3 linked regions of the Homo sapiens genome follow. The protein of the gene in region 3 interacts with the protein of the main gene of each other region in a biochemical or structural test. Each region holds a gene or a part of one and is shown on either strand. Other genes may lie near its edges.

Region 1 (7,026 bases), on a different chromosome or scaffold from region 3:
AAAGATCTTTCCTCGACTTTGAAGGGAGCTAGAGTCAACAAATAAAAGAGATTGCCAAGCCATAATGGATGTATGTCTCTGTAACAAGATGCTTAAGCATGCTTCCTGGAAAAGAGTTTTATATTAGAAAATAGGAATGGCATTTTATGGGACAGCATTTCCTTCTATAGCTGCCAAACTGAGCACAGGCGTGGTCACCATATGGTGCACAAACTGACAGCATATTTCCAATTGGGCATAACATCATGGAGAGAAAACCCAGGAGCAAGAAGCACCTGTTTCACTGCACTTGCCCATTCAGGAGGCCTGGAGGGGACTGAGACAACTACATTTTATAGTTCTGGGTTAAGTTTACCCATGATGTATAGATTGGCTATAAATACAGCAATAAAACCAAGTAAAAAGAACAGGAAAAAATATACTTAGGATAAAAAACTACCCAGTCCTGTTTGTGATTTTTTTTTTCCCCTTTAGATTTAAGGTAATTAGAATAGATTGGGAAATGATTTAGGATTACCCTTCCCACCCTGGAAATGTAACATCCTACTTATGTTCCATGAAAAGAACACAATAATTGTTCAACAGCAAGATTTAGTTTCTCTAAAAAACAGGAGCACTTTGCTCTAATTTTCACAGAAGGACTGCAGAAAATTTTCCAACATGAAAGCTAGAAATTGAGGCCAGTAAAGAAGCTTCTTTAGTAATCAGGACCTATCATAGTTAGAGCTCTTTGGAATGTGTCTCATACATACAAAGGTATCACAAATTAAATCTTCAGCATATTCATAAGTTCTTAAATGAGAAAGATTTCTAATGACAGATAAAGGCTCCCATCGGCAAATTAAATCTGATAACTCAATCTTTCCCAACTAACAACTGAACATAGCCTCTGGAATCAAATGTAAAGATCACTCAATCATGACGATGTAAGATGAAGTATAGATGAACAATACATATGAAAAAATTTTGTAAACCGCTGCAGTTCTAAAACAGATTTATATTACAAAGCAATGTAAATAAATACTGGGCTAGTACAAAAGCTCTTATTTACAGTTTTACAAATGAAATTGTATTCAGTGTAAATGCTGTGTTTTAAAGAACACAGTATTGTATTAGTAAAATTAGTTCTGTTGAGGGCATTACAGTTTGTTAGAATCAATGCATAACATATAAAAGGTTCAAGTTAACTCTGTTTATAATTTAGTACAGACAACCCAGTTTAACCTGGAATGGCATCTGTTAAAGTGCTGAAAAAACAGGAAATATTTAGAAAACACTGTACATTATTAAAGCTTTATCAAGTCAGAATGTTAAACTTCGTTCACATTTTTATCCTTTTGCCACAGGCCTGTGGGCAAGATGATTTTTTTTCAGCAAAGGAGTAAAACGTAGAGGCCACTGCTGCTTTGATGATTTTAGGTTCAGTGGAATTAGTTTCTTAAAATAACTATTTATCCATCGACCATACCTTCAGGCCTCATAATCTGGTAAGTAATTAAATACTCAGGATAAGCCTGGAAGAGAAAGATAAATTCAAATAATGGTACAAAAATTTTCTTGAAAGATAAACAGACTTTCCGGAAGTATTCCTAATCTTAGGGAGGAGGTTCTAAATTACTGTTGTAGATCAGAATCATCTAGGGACATTTTCTCAAAACATCTTTACCCTGAGTACAGTTCTTCAGATTTTCAATCAGCAAGTCTAAGATGAATACTAAGTTCATAAGTATCAGATAAGACTAAAATCATGTCTGATTTTAGTAACTGCGGTGATTCCGATACCTACTCCCAGTTCACAACACTGCTCTAGAACTACTTTTGGCTCTCACTGAGAGCAAAACACAGTTATATACTTCTTTGCTATGGACAGGCTGTTAAATACAAGATTTCAATTATTTATAAGAGCTAAGAAAAATCCGGAACGACTGGCGAAATTTGAATAAAATCTTCTTGTTTTTAGGAAATTTACAATTGAAATAGTTAATGGTAAAGGGACATGCCCTGCAACTTACTCTCAAACAGTTCACAAAAAAATAGGTACACACACAAGGAAAGAAGGAGAGAATGGTAAGAGTAAAAAAGAGAACAAAATATTAACATTTAGGAAATCTAGGTAAAGGTTATAAGAAAATTCTCTTTACTATTTTTGTAACTTTCCAAATCTGAAATTATCTCCAAATAAAATTTTTAAAAAATCCAGTTAAGGCAATATGTCTTGTCAATTCAAGAGATTAATAAAAAGTTAAAGTATGCCTCCCTAGCATTTTTGAAGATGAACAAATAAAACTACATTACCTGTTCTCCTCTGTAAATAACATATTCAGCTAATGCTAGGCCATTTACACTGGGCCTACCAGTGACTGAGTGATGACCTGGAGGAGAATGTGCCATTTTCATTGCACTGAACTGCAGGAAAGACTTTCCCAAGGTTACCCGGCAAAAGAGCAGCTGCCTATAAAACGAAAAGGAAAAGATCACCCTGAAGTCAAATTTGATACATAAATATGACAATGTGTGGACACGGCATAAGTTTTAAAAAATTATTTATACATAAATACTTATAATTGTTTTTATCATTTCACCCCTAAAAGAACTTTTTAAGAATGTCTTCTATTACTCTTATTAATGAAATAATTTGTCAATTTAGTTAGTCCTTATTTTAACTATAAAATCTGAAAAATGTAATAACCTTATAGAGATACAGACTCTACCACCTTGTTTGTATCTCAGCAAAAAACAAAAGTCACTGGCCAAGTGGGAAGGAGAAGGTTTAGTGGACTTCCATTAAGTGGCTTGCAAAGTTGGACACATATCTAATTAACTCCAGTTGATTTTACCTTCAAAATATATTTGAAATCCATTTACTTTTCTTAATTCTACTGTCACTATTAAGTCAAATCACTGAAATATTCACCTGGACTATCACACAATGGCTTTCTAAACCAGTCTTCCTGTTTCTTCTGTAATTCCTGTCCAAACCTTTCCCATCCAACTAATTAAAACAAACAAAAATTAGATCAAGTCACTTTTCTGCTTAAAACCTTTTAGAGGCTGTCACTGTACTTGGGAGAAAATCCAAATTCTGTACAATGGCTCCAATTTCTTGAATCTCATTTTATGTTCATTATGCCCCATGCACATTAGTTTTCTTTTCTTCACAAAGGCCAAACTTGCTTTATTAATGGTCCCCATCCACAGAATTTTCTCCACCATTGGAATGTTATCTATTTTACCACTCTTCCACTGGCTGATACCCACTCAATTTTCAGACTTCAGCTGAAATGTTACTTCCTTAGATAGGAAGTAAACTGGTAGTCTCCCCTCACCACCAGTTTCAGTAGATTACCCTCTCACTCCTCTCAGGCATGTGACTAGCCTTTCTTAGTTTCAAACAACCTTTTAGTATTAACGTCATTGTTTCTTTTTAGAAGATAACAGGAGATTTCTGTAGACCAGTTGATGGTTCTATCTTCCAAAGAAGAGGGAGGTATTAGAATGCTGCTTATTACTAATAATCAGAACTATTTAGCCTTCAGACCATATATGACAAATAAAAACAGCAGTGTTCAATTTACAGGAAATTACATGCCTCCTAACCACTCCAATTTATGATCTAAAATAGAAGTGAGTGGGACGTCATACATAGGAGGGCCTACTGTGTACTACCTATGCAGGCCTAAATTTAGAGGGGTAACAGTAAGAACAAAACAAACACAAAGAAAGAACCTGTTTCCCTCCATGACTGCAATTCTTCAGCTCGGAAGCCCTTTGAAATCAACTGGGAAGCTTTTAAAAATTCTAATATCCAGATCATGCCCCAGACCAATTAAAAGAGATTCTGTGAGGGTGGGACACAGGCATTAATAGTTTTTTAATATTCCCTGGGTGATTCCAATGTGCTGCCAAAGTGCAAAGTACTGCTCTAGGGGTTTTTTTCTAGATCAGTGGTCAGAAATACAGTGTCACATCTGGGAACTTGGTAGAAACTCAAATTCTAGAGTCTCATCCCAGATCTACTAAATCAGCAACTGAGAAGGTGGAGCCTAAGAATCTGTGATTTAAACAAGCCATCTAGGTGACTCTAATGCATGCTAATGCTTGATAAACTACTGCTCTGTATATTCAATAAGCAGTGCCCTAACTGTCGAATAAATCTCAGGAATTAATCTTACTGGATTTTTCAAGTGGCATTACTTTTTGCCTATAAGGATTTTATAAGTTAGGGACAAGTTACTTAAATGATTTTTAACAAGTGAGTTAGAACAGGTAATTAAAAGTGGAAAAAAAAAGTGCAAAGTAGTTATTTGATTATTATTTCCTTTCAAAAAGGATCAATGTTTTAATTTCAAGTTCTTATAGTAATATTGCAAATTGAGGATTAGGATCGTATCACAGTGGAAGAGAGGCTCAGGCACTGCCATCAAATAATTAGATTTGACAAATAATGCCATTTTAGCATTTGAATACTAGATTTTTAGAGTCCACAGAGTCCTACAATACTCAAGGGCTACAATAAAGCCTCTTTCATGCCTAATGTTACTTTCTACTCAGTATGCTTTAAGGCACCAGATATTCTAATGATTAAATTAGCCAAACAGGTCAAGTGCTTAAATTATAATTGGCCCATACGGATCATTTAATAAATATTAGCTATTATTACAATTGGTGAGAGGGCCAAAAGCAATCTAAAACATGCCTAGCTTGCATTCCTAAGACTGTCCAACATAATGCTTTGCCCTCAAAAATGCAACTAGTTCTTATCTGATTACCACCAAAATAAATGAGAACAAGTGATCTCTTACCTGTGGCAAATGTAACAAGATCTGTCTTTGTGAACTGGACACCCAGTACCTCCTCCAATTCCATATACATATTGATTGCTTTTGGAAGAGTTTTCAGCAAAATAAATGCCAGCTCCAAACATACCACCTATGTACGCATGCCTTTCATCAAAGCCTTTGTGGATAATTGCATTCACAAAAGGAGACCCTGAAACACATATAGATGGGTAACAATAATTTAAAATTTATCTTAGAATAAAAAGTAAAAAACTAGTTTCTTAGAAACTGAATTCTTAAATATATAGCCCAACCATAATAAAGCCAAAACGAAAAAGGGTAACAAGTTAACTGTCAGCCAGCTATTTTAGAATAAAGAACTGCTAACATCAACTAATGTTTCTAACAGAGTGCTGGTTTATGTGCTAAAATAAGGACACAGATTGAACTAGAAAAACAGAGTACTTGAAATATCAGTGTAAGAGTTACCAAATGCCAGACTGCAAATCCATAAAAATCTAAAACCAAGAGGCTCATAATTCACTTTAGATAGCAAAGCTAAATGCAATTAGGTCTTAGAATGATGCCTATGCCTGTGTGCTTTTTTGAAGATACCAAGTGGCCCAAGTAGACTTTCACATTCTTTTTTTTTTTAAATTTTTTTGAGATGTAGTCTCGCTCTGTGGCCCAGGCTGGAGTGCAGTGGCATGATCTTGGCTCACTGCAACCTCTGCCTCCCGGGTTCAAGCAATTCTCCTGTCTCAGCCTCCTGAGTAGCTGGGACTATAGGTGCACACCACCATGCCTGGCTAACTTTTGTATTTTTAGTAGAGACAGGGTTTCAACATATTGGTCAGGCTGGTCTCAAACTCCTGACCTCAGGTGATCCACTCACCTTGGCCTCCCAAAGTGTTGGGATTACAGGCGTGAGCCACCGCACCCGGCCCAACTTTCACATTCTTATTCTCTTTCTTATACCTCTTCTCTTCTATCCTTCCACTTCTGCCTTTCATTAATTACGATACAAGATTCTATCTGCAAATGTGGTGCTTTCCCTCACCCCCTGCACATTGACTTCTCTCTCCTCTTTCCTTGGGAGTGGAGTAGAGTGGGGGATGGAAAAAGTCAAAAAACCACAGCTAATTCATTTATCAAGATCACATTCCCTTTCCACAGACAGACAGGAAAATATACTGAATTCTACTTTACAGAAATACAGATGAATAGAATCATTTTTTGAATTAACTTGGGAAAACCAAAATTATTTATATTACAAATTAGAAAAACCATATTATAACCATCAATTAACAGATAAATAAATATGCTCTGTGTCAAGAGATTATCATGATAATTATTTAGGGTTTTGGAATAAGGAGTGCAACATGTTTAGATTCTGCACATGAATCCATTCTGTTACAGCCATTCTCCCAGGGTATTATGAAATTTACTGTGTTTTAGAGAACTTTACAGGTCTCTAAAATTTTTCTGCAATCAAGGACAAATGAAGAAACAGACTGGAACTACTATGGGTAATGTACTTGAAGCCCTCATAAATACTACATTAATATGTTTAACTTTGCTAAAATTTGAAAGACTAATCAACACCTGCCAGCTTATAATACAAAAAAAGTAGAAAATTCCAAGAAGAATAAGTAATTGTGCTTTCAATTCAATTCTATGGTTTCAATTCTACAGTCATCAGAAACCTCTACAGGTTCAATAACAATGGCTCTTTTCAAATTGTGTGGGTTTGATACTTAGAATCAAAATCAGAATAGGATGTACACCTTCTTCTGAGGTGATTCCCAGGTCTTATTTTTAATTCAATCAACTAGTTAAATGGAAAACACAAAATTTCCTAGAGTGACCATAAGCAAAATTTACTATTTAAAGAAAAAAGGAAAAGATAGTCAACACTCTCATTTCTATTTTTATTGTGGTAATCTTATTTAAAAACAATCCATTATAAAATACACAAATTCAAAAGAAGTTGAAAATATAAATGTGAAAGTTACAGAAATAGTAGGTTTATCTTAAAATACTGACATAAAGAATATACAGGCTTATTATTATTTCATATCTGAACAAAAAAACTATCCTAATGTGGAAGACAGTGGTAGAGTTGGTGGGGAGGAATCTTACCATGAAATAGCATTCGTTCATTGGCATGGTTGTGGTTTTCTTCAGAAACTTCTTTTCTCCGGTGAGTGTATCTTTCCCATAGTTTCTTGTTACAAACCTTCTGAAT
Region 2 (7,026 bases), on a different chromosome or scaffold from region 3:
TGCTTGGGATTTTACAACAGACATAGAAAAGATCTGGCCACAAACCTCACCATCTGAATCCTTGCACTAACTTAAGGAGGTCTGCACAGGCTTCCCTGAGGGCAAGGAGGACGGTGGCTGCTTACCTCGGCGCAGTGTATGCGGGCTGGGCCCTGCAGCATTGTGAGGTTGGCCCATGGAGAGCTGGTGGGAGCCAGCAGCTGCCTGGGGCTGATTTTGGCCAGATGCTATCTGACTGTTGTTTCTCCCTGGTGCTGGCACAGCTGCAGATACAGGGTCCTTCGGTTTGGGAGGACTAAGAGGAGTAAAAGTCAAGTTAGACGTCAGACAATCCCAGCTAGAAAATCTGAACATACTGCACATAAAACATAAGATTCCAAGCAGAGTTTTCACTTCGGCAGGCAGGAAAAGGATCTGAAATTCTAACTAGCTCACACTGGGCTTATAAAGCTAATGTTTACTTGGTGCCATATAAAGAGCTAATGTTTACTTGGTGCCATTTTTTTTTTAAGAGATGAGGTCTTGCTATGTTGCCCAGGTTGGTCTCAAATTTCTGGACTCAAGCAATCCTCTCCTGCCTCAGCACCCTGAGTAGCCGGGACTATAGGACTATTTATTTTATGAGATTCGTTGCATCAGACTGGACTCCAACGACTCTGCCACTCCAGTATCATCAGAGAGACCATTTCAAAGCAACCAATGCGGAGTTTTCAGTTCTACTGCGTTTGGACTTAAATTGGGCAGTACTTAATACCATGAAATGGCTTTTACATGTTGACATATACACTGTACAAAACTAAGCAAAAGCCATGGCAAAATAAGACCCTAAATGATAAAGGGCTTGATTATTATCAATAACTTGGACTGAAGAAGGAGAACTCAGAGGCTAAATGACTACTCGAAGTCCAGAGTTGGTAGCAGCAGGATAGAGATCAGAATTCAGGCTTCCTGTTTCCTGGCCCAGAACTTTTTATACCAAACTCTGTAGCTCCATTTTGTCAAGGTCACCAAAGAGTGAATAACATTAGTGTAATGTACATAAAAATACCTACAGAATACAGTATAAAAAACAAACAGCAGGCCAGGCACAGTGACTCACGCCTGTAACGCCAGCACTTTGGGAGGCTGAGGCACATGGATCACTTGAGGTCAGGAGTTCAAGACCAGCCTGGCCAACAAGGTGAAACCCCGTCTCTACTAAAAATACAAATATTAGCCAGGCGTGGTGGCGCATGCCTGTAGTCCCAGCTACTCTGGAGGCTGAGGTGGGAGAATCGCTTGAACCCAGGAGGTGGAGGTTGCCGTGAGTCAAGATCATGCCACTGCACTCCAGCCTGGCTGACAGAGCGAGATGCTGTCTCAAAAAAAAAAAAAGCAAAGTAACTGACATTCCATTTGTCCTTCTGCATTAAGACTAATTATTGTCTTAAATAATACATTTAGCCTTGATTAAACAAATGGAATGTCACAAGGAAATGAAAATATGTAAATTGGCTGGGCATGGTGGCTCATGCCTGTAATCCCAGCACTTTGGGAGGTTAGGGAGGGAGGACTGCTTGAGACCAGGATTGAAGACCAGCCTGGGCAACACAGTGAGACCTCGTCTCTACAAAAATTTAAAAAAATTAGCTGGGCATGGGGATGCACTACTATAGTCCCAGTTGGGAGGCTGAGGTGGGAAGATCGCTTGAGCCTGGGAGATTAAAAGGCTGTAGTGAGCCATGATCACACCACTGCCCTCCAGCGTGGGTGACAGAGCAAGACCCTGTCTGAAAAAAAAAAAACAACAAAAAACAGGCCGGGGCAGTAGCTCACGCCTGTAATCCCAGCACTTTGGGAGGCCAAGGCAGGTGGATCACTTGAGGTCAGGACATCGCGACCAGCCTGGCAAACATGGTGAAACCCCATCTCTACTGAAAATACAAAAATTAGCCAGGCATGGTGGTCCATGCCTGTAATCCCAGCTACTCCGGCGGCTGAGGCAGGAGAATCATTTGAACCCAGGAGGCAGAGGTTGCAGTGAGCCAACATTGCACCACTGCACTCCAGCCTGGGCAACAGAGCGAGACTTCGTCTCAAAAAATAAATTAATAAATAAAAATAAATAAAAATAAAAAACAAAACCAAGAAAAAGAAAATAAGTGAATTTGCTTAGACTTTTTTCCTTCAAACAAAAAAATTTAAACCAAAACAAGTACATGCATAGGGCACAATTATTGACAAGCTAACGTGCAGCCTATGAGGTGCACGGGAAGCCCTAAGAAGTCTGAAGTCTTAATTTTTTTTAACCCCAAAGTAAACTTTCCCAAGGTGAAGAAAATGGAATTCAGGAATGCACAAAGCATTCAGCATTCAGTTTTAATGGTGAAACAAGATTCCTATCTCACGAGCAGCTTCACACACAACAAGGCTCTCCCTTGCTCATCCCAAGGACGATGAGAAAGGAGTTCTTTCAAGGCAAATTCATCTCTCTGTGTGGGAAATAAACGTGTGGATAAACAGCCTGTCCTTGTTTTGTGCACATTTATTTTACTTCATATATGATCATTCGGTGTGTTGTGGATGGCCAATGCAGAACATATGACAACAAAAATTTTGGCACACATGTATGCAAAGCTAAGCAGCTGTCAGTTCCAAACCACAAGAGATGCCACCTGAAGTAGCCTCTGGTGGTCATCTGCCTGGATCAGTGTGGAGAACTGAATTAATGTCAATTAAATAAAAATCTCAAGTTATGGCTGGGCGCGGTGGCTCACACCTGTAATGCCAGCCTTTGGGAGGCCAAGGCAGGGGGATCACCTGAGGTCAGGAGTTTGAGACCAGCCTGACCAACATGGCGAAACCCTGTCTTTACTAAAAATACAAAAAAATTAGCCTGGCATGGTGGTGTGTGCCTGTAATCCCAGCTACTCCGGAGGCTGAGGCAAGAGAATCACTTGAACCCGGGAGACGGAGGTTGCAGTGAACCGAGATTGCACCACTGCACTCCAGCCTAGGCGACAGAGTGGGACTGTCTCAAAAAAAAAAACCTCAAGTTCAAGGTGACTTTTCTTAAAAGTTGCTATCCATTTGCAGCCCACTCCAGGTGGCTTATCCAAAGGTTAAGCAACTAAAAGAGCCTTTTAAGAAAATCTACCAGCTAGGCATGGTGGCTCATGCCTGTAATCCCAGCATTTTGGAAGGCTGAGGCAGGAAGATCACTTGAGGCCAGGAGTTCGAGATCAGCCTGGGCAACCTAGGGCATCTATGTTTACCCCATCTTTACAAAAATAAAAAAATTAGCTGGGCATGGTGACAAGCACCTGTAATCCCAGCTACTTGGGAGGCTTAGGTAGGAGGATTGCTTGGGCCTAGGAGGCGGAGGGTGCAGTGAGCTACGATTATGCCACTGCACTCCAGCCTGGGCAACAGAGCAAGACGCAGTCTCAGAAAAAAAAAAAAAAAAAAGAAAAAAGAAAAGCTACCATCTTATTTTCCACCTTGGACTCATGGATCAACTGCCCTACAAGACTGAAATCTGGGGGTGTGGAGTGGAGTCTTAGTCACCTCATGTGCCTAGCACATATCAGTGACTCAGTAAATCTGTTTCACTGAATCAATCAACGAATGGGTGAATAAATGCCAGGAATACGAAAATTTAACTAACTTGCCACACTCAAATGCTTCCTGGTTAGCACACTGGATGACAATGAACAGAAGGTACATGAATGCTGACAGTATACATCCAACAGGTGACAGAGGCTCATCACACTATGAGACATCCACTGGCTTCCGGTTTCCAGCACCAAAGCAGTGTGGCAAAGAATGCAAACCAATGTTGCTTTCTTTGGAAAACATAAAAAGAAGCGAGCCATTCATAGTCTTTTTTTCCATCTTTTGCCAACCAGAGGAGTGAAAGTAAATCTGTTCACTCCATGCTGGAGCAGTTCTTTGGGCATGGATGCCGTGCTCAAAGGCCACCACCTGCAAGAAGGCTGGGGCGTCCAGCCTCCACTGCCAGCAGAAGTCAGCCTCCTTACCTGCCGTCGCCTGGGCTCGGCCCCTGCTCCAGTATGCCCGCGGAAGAGGGGACAGTCCCACCCCCAGAGCTGCTTTCAGCCCTAGAGCTCTGGGGAGGGGGCTCTGGGCCAGCGGGCACCACGGTGCTGCCATCTGTGGGCGGAAGTGGCGGCTGGAAAGCGGGGGATATGTGCTTTCTATTTAGAGTGCCACCCCGCCGGTGGGCCTGGAAGTCCATAAGCTTCACACCAAAGCTACACAGAGAGAAGAAACAGTCAACACACCATGCGAGCAGACTACTGAGACAGAAGCCCATCGGTCCACATGTGTTAAAACCACACATGGGGATAGCCACCCAAGCTGCCCGGCATGCAGTGAAGCGGCAAGGACCAGACTAATGGCCACCCCTGAGCAACTCCACTCGGCTTCAAGCCTGAGCAAAGCCAATGAACCTGGTACTGTTCAATGTCTTTGATCAATTTGGGTGTGAGCAGCTAAAAGCAAATAGGCAGGCCTCATCTTGAATGACATCATGTTAGTGTGTTTATCCCCATACTTCCTCTGCTGTTTTTTTCCCCCTTTAGACATGTGGTCTCACTCCACCACCCAGGCTGGAGTGCTTGGCACTCCAGTGGAGCAATCATAGCTCACTACAGTGCCAAACTCCTGGGCTCAAACAATCCTCCAGCCTCAGCCTCTGGAGCAGCTTGGACTACTGGCACACATCACCATACTGGGATACTAAAAAAAAATTTTTTTTTGTAGAGATGCGGTCTCACTACATTGCCCAGGCTGATGTCAAACTCCTGGCCTCAAGTATTCCTCCTGCCTTGGTCTCTCAAAGTGCTGGGATTACAGGCATAAGTCACCACATCCGGCCTATTTCCATACTTCCTAGTTCCCATCTCAAATCTGTTTTTGGGGAATGACACAGAAGTCAAGTCCAGAAGGCCTACCAATGGCAGTGTAAGGTTATCACACCACACTGCCTCTTAACTGAGATGAGATGTAGAAACAATCCTATGTGCATATGCAGACTACATGTGAAAGGTACATAAGGCTGGAAAAGCTGGGCATGGTAGCTCACACCTGTAATCTTAGCACTTTGGGAGGACAAGGTGGGAGGATCGCTTTAGCTTGGAAATTCAAGACCAGCTTGGGAAACATCGTGAGGCCCTGTCTCTACAAAAAACTATTTTTTTAGAAAATTAGCTGCGTGAGGTGGTGCGTGCCTATAGTCCCAGCTAGTCAGGTGTGTGAGGTGGGAGGGCTGCCTGAGCCCAGGAGGTCAAGGCTGCTGTGAGCCATGATCATACCACTGCACTCTAGCCTGGGCACATAACCCTGTCTCAAAAAAACAAAAACCAAAAAGACTGGAAAAAGCCGTTGCTTTGGGGAAGGGAATGGTGGCTGGATGTGGCTGGAGAGGGTGGAAGGAAGGCTGACTTTTCACTTAAGGCGACTGATCTATGAACTTAACAACTTTTTCTTTCAGTTCAAAAAGTAAAAAGATACCTGGCTTCTTGAGCTCGTGCTTACTGGGTCAGCTGGCAGGGAGAATACACAAGGCAGGTAACTGAGAATTGTCTGTCACGTGCTAACTAGACTCATGCACTGTATTCTGTAACTTAAAATATATGAAAGCTAATTTTGTTACAGGTAGAGTCTGTCATCAGGAAATACTACTGAATGTATGAATGAGGGTTCAGAGAGGTAATACGTCTGCATAGAATAAATGTGGATTTTGGAAGGACAGAATAGGGACAGAATAATGCATTCTCCTTTGCTAGGGGTAAAAAATGCAATACAAAGAACAAGAAACAAACAGCACACCTCACTATAAGACTGAGCAATTAAAATAAGAGCTTGTCACTTCGTTTTAATGTAAAACTATTTCTAGTAGTATTATTTAATATACCAAGAAAAGCATATTACTTCCAACAGGCCTCTTAACTGTTAGCATTCCTAGTGAGTACAGTGGCATTTCATCACACACATGGGACAGGTTGGCATCCAAAGGCACAAATTACAAACAGTCTTAATCACCCTTGAAAATCCCATGAATTGCCCATAGAAAAGAGTATATAGAGACACACTGCTTCTCACTAAGTTCAACACTGCCATTTTTTTTTCTTCTAGAATTGGCAAATACTGAGGTTTTTCCCACTGAACATCAAATTCAGTGGTTGGCTTCCATTGTGGGGCCACATTATACCAGAAATATGTCTCCTTAAACGCCAAATCACTCAACTCACTGTGCCAGGTGGGTGTTCTCACACTCAATTCTGGACAAAAGTCCACACTATTGAATTTATTTTCCTTTCTGTTTCCCCCCACTCACGTACATCTGGGTCACTTTTAACATGTGTATGATGCCGTTCCACTGCAGGGCTTACCAAGCACACCACCAAGTTAAGCTGGAATACACGTGGAAGAAACGTTAACTGAGAAGCTACACACTGACTTTATGGTGAGATTAGTGCTTGGAATGACCTACAGCAGAATTCCAGAAACTATCTGGACACCATCAGTCATGGGTGGATGGCGACCACTCTCAAATCCCAAGTCCACTGAGCGATACCAGATACCACGGGTCTAACAACATATTTACTGCTGGTTTGGAAGTGAACGGTCAAATCATACCTTTCCTTCTTCACCAAGTCTCCTTCCATCACCGCCATGCTAGCAGGCCGCTTCCTCTCCAGGGTCCCCGAGTCAGAGTCGTTTCCAGTGTGGAATGAGTGATTAGAACTCGGGGTGGTGAGAGGTACAAATGCTTCTGATACATTAAATTCCACCTCTGCAAGAGGAAAAATAAACAAGTGCATGAGACACTGAGCACAGCAGGCGAGGGAGCTCTAAGACACCCCTCATTGGAACGGGAACCTCGTTCTTCAGTCCACAGCCCTCACTATTTCAAAGTGGAAGCTCCAGGCACTCACATCGCAAGAATGGTCCATCAAACCAGTGGGAAGTAATGTTAAGAGGACAAGACAGGGGAAGAAGTATGGGTCAGAATATAAGTTA
Region 3 (7,197 bases):
CCCAAAGTGCTGGGATTACAGGTGTGAACCACTGCGCCCAGCTGTTTTGTTTTTTACTTAATAATTCACATAGGGGACTTTTGTGACCAAACGTGTTGGGATTTCTTCCCACCACCAACCAAGTAATTAATTTTGTAGTGGACATCAGCTGAGTGTCCTTTAATTTAGTGTTCTTTTAATTTTTATTTTTTTTTAGAGACTGGGTCTTGCTGTCACCCTGGCCATAGTCTAATGGTGCAATCACGGCCCACTGCAGCCTCGCACTTCACCTGCCTCAGCCACCATATACCTGGAGATAGTGTCAGATATCACAAATTGAGGGCTTGGTCCTCAAGACTGCCCCCCACCCCAAGTAGGTGTCAATCTTAAGTTTTAGGTTATGTGATCTGTCTTTTTTGACGAACTGTTTATAAATCAGAAATCTCAAGTCCTCCTTTTTGGGTTTAATTTGTTACAGTGCCTCACAGAACCTAGGGAAACATGTTTATTATAAAGGATATAGATGAAGAGATATATGGAGTACGGGGGAAGGAGAGTGGAACTTCTGTGCCCTCTCTGGGCATGCCACCCTCTAGGAACTTTTTTTTTTTTTTTTTTTTTGAGATAAAGTCTCACTCTGTTGCCGGAGTACAGTGGCTGGAGTGTAGTGGCGCGATCTTAGCTCACCGCACCCTCCGCCTCCTGGGTTCAAGCGATTCTCTTGCCTCAGTCTCCCAAGCAGCTGGGATTACAGGCACCCATGACCACACTGGGCTAATTTTTTTTTTGGTGTTTTTTTTTTTTTTTTTTTTTTTTGTATTTTTAGTAGAGACAGGGCTTTCACTATGTTGGCTAGGCTGGTCTCAAACTCCTGACCTCGGATGATCTGCCTGCCTCTGCCTCCCAAAGTGCTGGGATTACAGGCGTGAGCCACCACGTCCGGCCAACTCTCTAGGGACTTTTATGTGTTTAGCTATCTGGAAGTTCTCAGAACTTTGTTTTTTGGAGTTTTAATAGAGGCTTTATTTTATGTAGTCATGATTGATTAAGCTATTGACCATTACTGAACAACTTAACTTTCAGCGCCTCTCCCCAGTCCCCGGAGGTTGGAGTGACAGTGTGGGTGCAGATAAAAGTCCCACACCTCTAATCTTGTCTTGGTCTTTATGGTGACCAGTCCCATCTTGAGGTACTAATACTTAGGGACTGTCAGCCATCAGTCATCTCATTAGTATATAAAAAGACATCATTTTGGGGTTTTTAAGGATTTTAGGAGCTATACTTCAGGAAACAAGGTTGACGACAAAATATATATTTTGTAATATCACACCAAGATCATAATTTTGTAAATCAGTGTTCCCTAGATTTTACTGAGAGGTGAAACCAGTATCTGCAACCCAGATTAACCCCCTAGATAATATCAGCGTTTACATAGAGTTTAGAGTACCCCTGGTGAAAACTGATTCCTAAGTAGGTCAGGTCACAGTAGTTTGTTAATGGGGATACTTCCTTGTCTTAGAATCACTTCCTCCTGCTCTGAAGGGAAACTGAAATGGATTTAGTTCTTCCTAAAAAATGCTGTGCTATATTTTAGCCTTTTTTCTGCTGGCTTATTTCATTTTATCTCATGGCTTCATGATCATTGGTGTCTCTCTCCTTTATTTTTTGAAGATTCTGACACTTTCAAGCATTTTCCAGTTACTGCCAAAGCTTAATGAAGTTAAAGATATTTGCAGTGTTGTATAATTAACTCACATCCATAGAGTTCTGCGGCAGCTTTTAATGGGTTCCTTCCTATAACTAACAATCTCCTGCTTACTCGTCTTAAAAAGTTTCATCTTCATGTGGTCTCTTTTTTTCTTCTGCTGTCCCTTCCTCTTCCTCTTTCTCCTCTTTAAAGCAGCAGGTTGTTTTACTTCTTGATTAGAGTATTTTCACAAGTGGTCACTGTTTTTGAGAAGTCTCCAATAACTTGGTCAAGATTAGATCATTGTATTTGACTAAAAAGTCAAGCCCTGGCAGGAAGGTGATTACTGAGGCAATGTCTTGTTAGATAAACCTGCATTGCATGTACCGTTTCCAAATTTTAGCAGACTAAACTGTGCAGCATTGTTTGAATTTCCCCCTCCAACTCACTCTGGCTATTAATCTGCCTTAGGAGATAGGTAGCTGGCCGTTCTCATTGTTATATATCTAGCAGTCTCTGGAGGAAAGAGAATTCAGACCTGGTAACTGAGAGCAAAATATTTATACAGACACAAGAATGGGGGTGGGCAGGAAGGGAGGGTTGTAACTGAAAAAAGGCAGACCAAAACAGTTTTGACAACTTAAATTTATTGTAACTGCCCAACAAAGGAAGTAGAGTTGGAGGTTTATCTGCAAGAGGTTTTTTTTTGTTTTGTTTTTTGTTTAGTAGCTCCACCTCTTAATTTATTATTATTATTCATTTTATTTTATTTTTTGAGACAGTCTCGCTCTGTCACCCAGGCTGGAGTGCAGTGGCACAATCTTGGCTCACTCCAACTTCTGCCTCCCGGGTTCAAGCGATTCTCTTGCCTCAGCCTCCTGAGTAGCTGGGATTACAGGCGCCCTGTCACCACGCCCAGCTAACTTTTGTGTTTTTAGTAGAGACGGGGTTTCTCCATGTTGGCCAGGCTGCTCTCAAACTCCTGACCTCAGATGATCCACTCACTTCTGCCTCCCAAAGTGTTGGGATTACAGGCGTGAGCCACCATGCCCGGCTTTAATTCATTATTGTTAATATTTTTGAGACAGGGTCTTGCTCTGTTGCTCAAGCTGGAGGGCAATGGCACCATCATGGCTCACTGCAACTTCAACCTTCTAGGCTCAAGCGATCCTCCTGTCTCAGTCTCCCAAGTAGCTGGGACCACAGGTGCATGCCACCATGCCCAGCTAACTTTTTTTTTTTTCTTTTTGTAGAGACAGGGTCTTGCGATGTTGCCCAGGCTGGTCTCAAATTCCTGGCCTCCAGCCATCCTCCCACCTGGGCCTCCTGATGTGCTGGGATTACAGGCGTGAGCCACCAGACCCGGGTTAGCTCCACCTTTTAATGGAGGAGAATGATAAGCAGGTTGAAAATGGTGGGGTGGGATTGGAGAAATGCATCATCGTAAAATATTTTTTAACTGGGGGCCCATGTTGGGAGTCGCACGGTTTCTCAGAAAAGGATCCAGTAGTAGCATTAACCGAGGGAGAAAGATAAGCTGTGGGGAAAGGGCTAGTGATTCAGGAGTTGGAATTCCAAACATTTTCCATAGCTTGTCAGGAACATTTGTGCAGACCTTTGGATATATAGAGAGGGAGTCCGTCTGCTGATAAAATGAGCGCTGGGTTTACCAACCTTCGGCCTTGGCCCACCCCTGATCCTCACCGCCGGGCAGTGAGATGGACACGTTATTTGCCTCCATTTGGTGGACTGCGCTCTGCGCTTCCAGAGGTGGAGCAATTGTCCGCCTCCGCCCGGCCAGCACGTGCGGGAGGCTGGATTTGAACCAAACAAGTTATCTGTGTACCCCACGCCTTTGCTTTTACCCACTAGGCGGTAACGTGATTTCACGCCTGAGAGTTTCTTGGCTGAACAAGTTGGAAATCACTGGTTTCAGAGATTGGAAATCACTGGGTGCACGCCCCTGGATTCTTTCCCTAGCCACTCGAGGCCGTCGCGCTTGCCTCGACGTCTCTATTCGCACAGCGCGCAGTTACCACCGCCCCACTCCCACCGCGCCAGCCTGCGGGACTCTCGGGCTTCCCTCGGGCGGTGGGAAAAGAGCCTCCCGGGCTGACTCTGCTCGGCGCGCATGGCTGCCAGGGGAAAGTATTGTCCTTAAATCCAGAGCGGCGATACGCGCAGGGGAGCGATCTCAGACCGCGGCGGAGCATCGGTGATCCCAGGGCCTGCCGCGTTCCAAGGCAAGCGCTAGTACTGCGAGCAGACAGTGGTCACTAAGAAGTCATTACCAGATTGGCAGGGGGAGTCCTAGGGATCCGGGTCCCGCCGTCCCTCACACCTCCCTCCGCGTCCTTCCGGACCCCAGGGCGACGCGGACCCGGCCGGGGGAGCCCGGGGGAGGGGGCCGGGCCGGGGTGGGGCGGGCGCGCGTGCGCGAGCTGTCAGACCGGCCCCGCCCCTCCCCTCCCGCCCCTCCCCCGCTCTCCGGGTGTAGGGCGGGCGGGCGCTGCGGCGGCCGCGGCTGCTGCTTCCTCGGGCCATTTTGCTGTGGAGCGGCGGGGAGGAGGAGCCGCCGAGGAGACCCCGGGCGAGGAGCTGCGAGCCGGAGGAGGCCGCGCGGACTCCGGGCTTTCCGCCGTCGCGGGGATCTCGGGGGGCAAAGGGATCGCCGGGGAGGGGGACCAGAGAGCCGCGCCCGCCGCGCGGAGCGCCCCTTCGCGTCCCCTGCACCATGAGCTGGGGCACCGAGCTCTGGGTGAGTGAGGGGCTGGGCCCGCGGGCAGATGCGGGGCGCGCGCTGCGTTTCCCCGCGGCCTGGGGAGGGGGCGCGGGCCGCGCTGCTGGGCGGAGGCGAGGGCGCGCTGGTCGGGGTCCTCGCGGCCTGGGGAGGAGGCGGGGTTCCAATGCCCCTCGTCCGCCTTGGCCCGAGCAGGAGGTGCGGGCCGGCTTGTCCTTCGGAGGCGAGGGGAGTTGGTGCGGGTCCCCGGCGGCCTGAGGAACGGCGCGGGCGGGCCTCCCTGTCCCCGGCGCCCCGGAGCGGGCCGTGTGTGTCGGGCCGAGCCCTAATCCCCCGGGGCGAGCCGCGGATGCCCGGGGAGGGCCGGGACCGGGCGTGGGGGCGTGGAGGCCCCGGCTGCGCGGCGCTGCGTTGGGTCTCGGGGCGCCCCGGCCGCGAGTTCTGTCCTGGCTCCGCGGAGGCGCTGGCGGATCGGGCACTTCCCCGGGAGCGGGGCGGCCGGGGCGAGCGCCGGGGGTCGGGTTTTGGGGTGCTGGGGCGAGAGTGCGGTCTTCGCTCTGGAGGCGAGGACTTCTGGCCCGTGGCGGCTCCGGGCGCACTTGTTCTTTCGGGGTAGCTCAATCCTGAGTGGGATGTGGGCACTGCGACGTCTGGTCTGGAGGGGAAAGTGGGAGTTAGGGAGAGATCTTACGTGATCTACCTCAGGAAGAGGCGTTCGCGGGGTCAATGATCTTTAACGGTTGCTCGGAGAATAGTTTCCAGTGGGGAAAGTTGGCGGTGAGGGGCGCCTTGCGGGGATGCTTGGCCGGGGGATGCGCACGGTAAACGGGCAGCCCTCAGGGCTGAGGGCCGTCCCCGGAAAGGCGAGGGGCTGGCTGTGGATGGAGCTCTTTTCCTGCCGTCCCCGGATTCCTGGGGAAATCACTGGGCAGGGGATGGGCAGTGCGGCGGCCCGGGAAGGAGCAGACGAAATCTCAGTTACTGCACTGAAATGCCCTCAAGATGAGCCATTTCCCAGGATGAACTCTAAAGTGCCTGAACTACCTTTTGGAATTCTATTTGCAAAGGGTGTGGAGGAGAAAGTGTAGGGTGGTGTTGCTATCTGAGATGAGGCCAAGAAATCTCATATCAAAATAAAACAAGGTTAGAGCAATTACAGAAACAGAGCACATCCTCCCTTGTTTTTTGTTTTGTTTTCTTTTGCTTTAATTGTTTTTACATAACCATTTGTTAGGTACAGAAGCAGCTACGGTTGTTATTACCAAAATCCTGAGGGCAATAGCTCCCTTAAATTAAGATAATTCATTTTATAAACATCTTCTGCCTAAAAGGGATTCATGACAAAATTTCCGCTGATGTTTACAAGTATCCATTTTGAAAATAAAATAGTTTAAAATATTTGCACACACCAGTTTAGGCAAAATCTATGACTTTGAGTACCGTATTGAAGTTTCTTTCCTCTTCTAATCCTTCCACTCCCTTTAGCTCTCTTTAGCTTATCTGGGGTGGGGAAGCAAATCAGAAGTAATCTTTGTCAAGACAGTAGAAATTGTGGCACAATTTTTTTTTCACTTGTTCAGACAGGTGGATGGAATTATGGAGGGAAAATGTACAATATATTTCTGAGTGAAATAGGGACCGAACACAATACCTTGGTGGACAGTTCAGTGATGTTGGTGAATGGGATAGAATATAATTCCAAAGAGAGGCAGTGGCTATGAGCAAAACTGCTAAAACAGCGGCAATTGCTTGCATTATTCTGTACATTTCTTTTTGAGGGTGCAGAAGTGGGAAGGAAGGCAGGGTTAGGAGTGATTGAAAATAAATGAGAGAGGCCGGGCGCAGTGGCTCAGGCCTATATTGCCAGCACCTTGGGAGGCTGAGTCGGGAGGATCTTTTGGGCCCAGGAGTTCAAGAACAGCTTGGGGAATATCTGGAGAGGCCTCCTCTTAAAAAAAAAAAAAAGAAAAGAAAAAAGAAAAAAGAAAAAAATAATAAATGGGAACTGGAATATATACAAATATTAATGATATGAAATCTTATATTTGCTTCACAATAATTTGGGTTGTTAGTAGATGGGAGATAGTGAGACAGAGTTGGCCATTATTGAAGCCAAATGCTGAGTACAGAAGTATTCATTACACTATTCTTTCTAGTATATATATTTGACATTTTCTACAATAAAAATAATTGGAAAATAGTTTTAAAGGAGAAGGATGTGAACTATTTGTAATTTTTTCACTTGACAATTTTATGAGGAAGAATGAATCAGTTAACAGTTCTATATATGCAAGTGTATGGCAATGAGGAGTTTTTAAAAAGACATTCTTTTTTTTTTTTTTTCTGAGACGGAGTCTTGCTCTGTTGCCTGCCCAGGCTGGCGTGCAGTGGCGTGATCTCGGCTCACTGCAGCCTCTGCCTCCCAGGTTCAAACGATTCTCCTGCCTCAGCCTCCCAAGTAGCTGGGACTACACGCGCCTGCCACCATGCCCAGCTAATTTTTTTGTGTATTTAGTAGAGACGGGGTTTCGCCGTGTTGGCCAGGCTGGTCTCAAACTCCTGATGTCAGGTAATCCGCCTGCCTCAGCCTCCCAAAGTGCTGGGATCGCAGGCGTGAGCCACCACGCTTGACGTTAAAAAAGACATTCTTATGAGTACCAGCATTTGCCTTTGAGTAGCTTACAGTTTAATATAGGAAAAGGAATGAACACATGATTGTGCTACTAAGAGAAATGCAAAATCTAAGTTTTCAGGTGAAATGCAAAGATGTATAAGGCTTAGTAGCTTTTGA

The links. Proteins that work in one complex are often made in the same cells at the same time.
Region 1: the proteins of FNBP1 (region 3) and TNKS2 interact in a biophysical measurement, tested with the Homo sapiens proteins (one study listed by IntAct).
Region 2: the proteins of FNBP1 (region 3) and ARHGAP17 form a complex in vitro, tested with the Homo sapiens proteins (one study listed by BioGRID).

Annotation. Positions count from the first base shown.
Region 1 is NC_000010.11:91,857,425-91,864,450, reverse strand, and holds part of TNKS2 (poly [ADP-ribose] polymerase tankyrase-2), read right to left. Parts: coding exon 6,921-7,026; intron 4,990-6,920; coding exon 4,803-4,989; intron 2,453-4,802; coding exon 2,296-2,452; intron 1,515-2,295; coding exon 1,452-1,514; 3' UTR 1-1,451. UniProt on the Homo sapiens protein: Poly-ADP-ribosyltransferase involved in various processes such as Wnt signaling pathway, telomere length and vesicle trafficking.
Region 2 is NC_000016.10:24,935,345-24,942,370, forward strand, and holds part of ARHGAP17 (rho GTPase-activating protein 17), read right to left. Parts: intron 6,800-7,026; coding exon 6,643-6,799; intron 4,254-6,642; coding exon 4,020-4,253; intron 296-4,019; coding exon 126-295; intron 1-125. UniProt on the Homo sapiens protein: Rho GTPase-activating protein involved in the maintenance of tight junction by regulating the activity of CDC42, thereby playing a central role in apical polarity of epithelial cells.
Region 3 is NC_000009.12:130,040,179-130,047,375, reverse strand, and holds the start of FNBP1 (formin-binding protein 1), read left to right. Parts: upstream 1-4,186; 5' UTR 4,187-4,400; coding exon 4,401-4,424; intron 4,425-7,197. UniProt on the Homo sapiens protein: May act as a link between RND2 signaling and regulation of the actin cytoskeleton. Required to coordinate membrane tubulation with reorganization of the actin cytoskeleton during the late stage of clathrin-mediated endocytosis.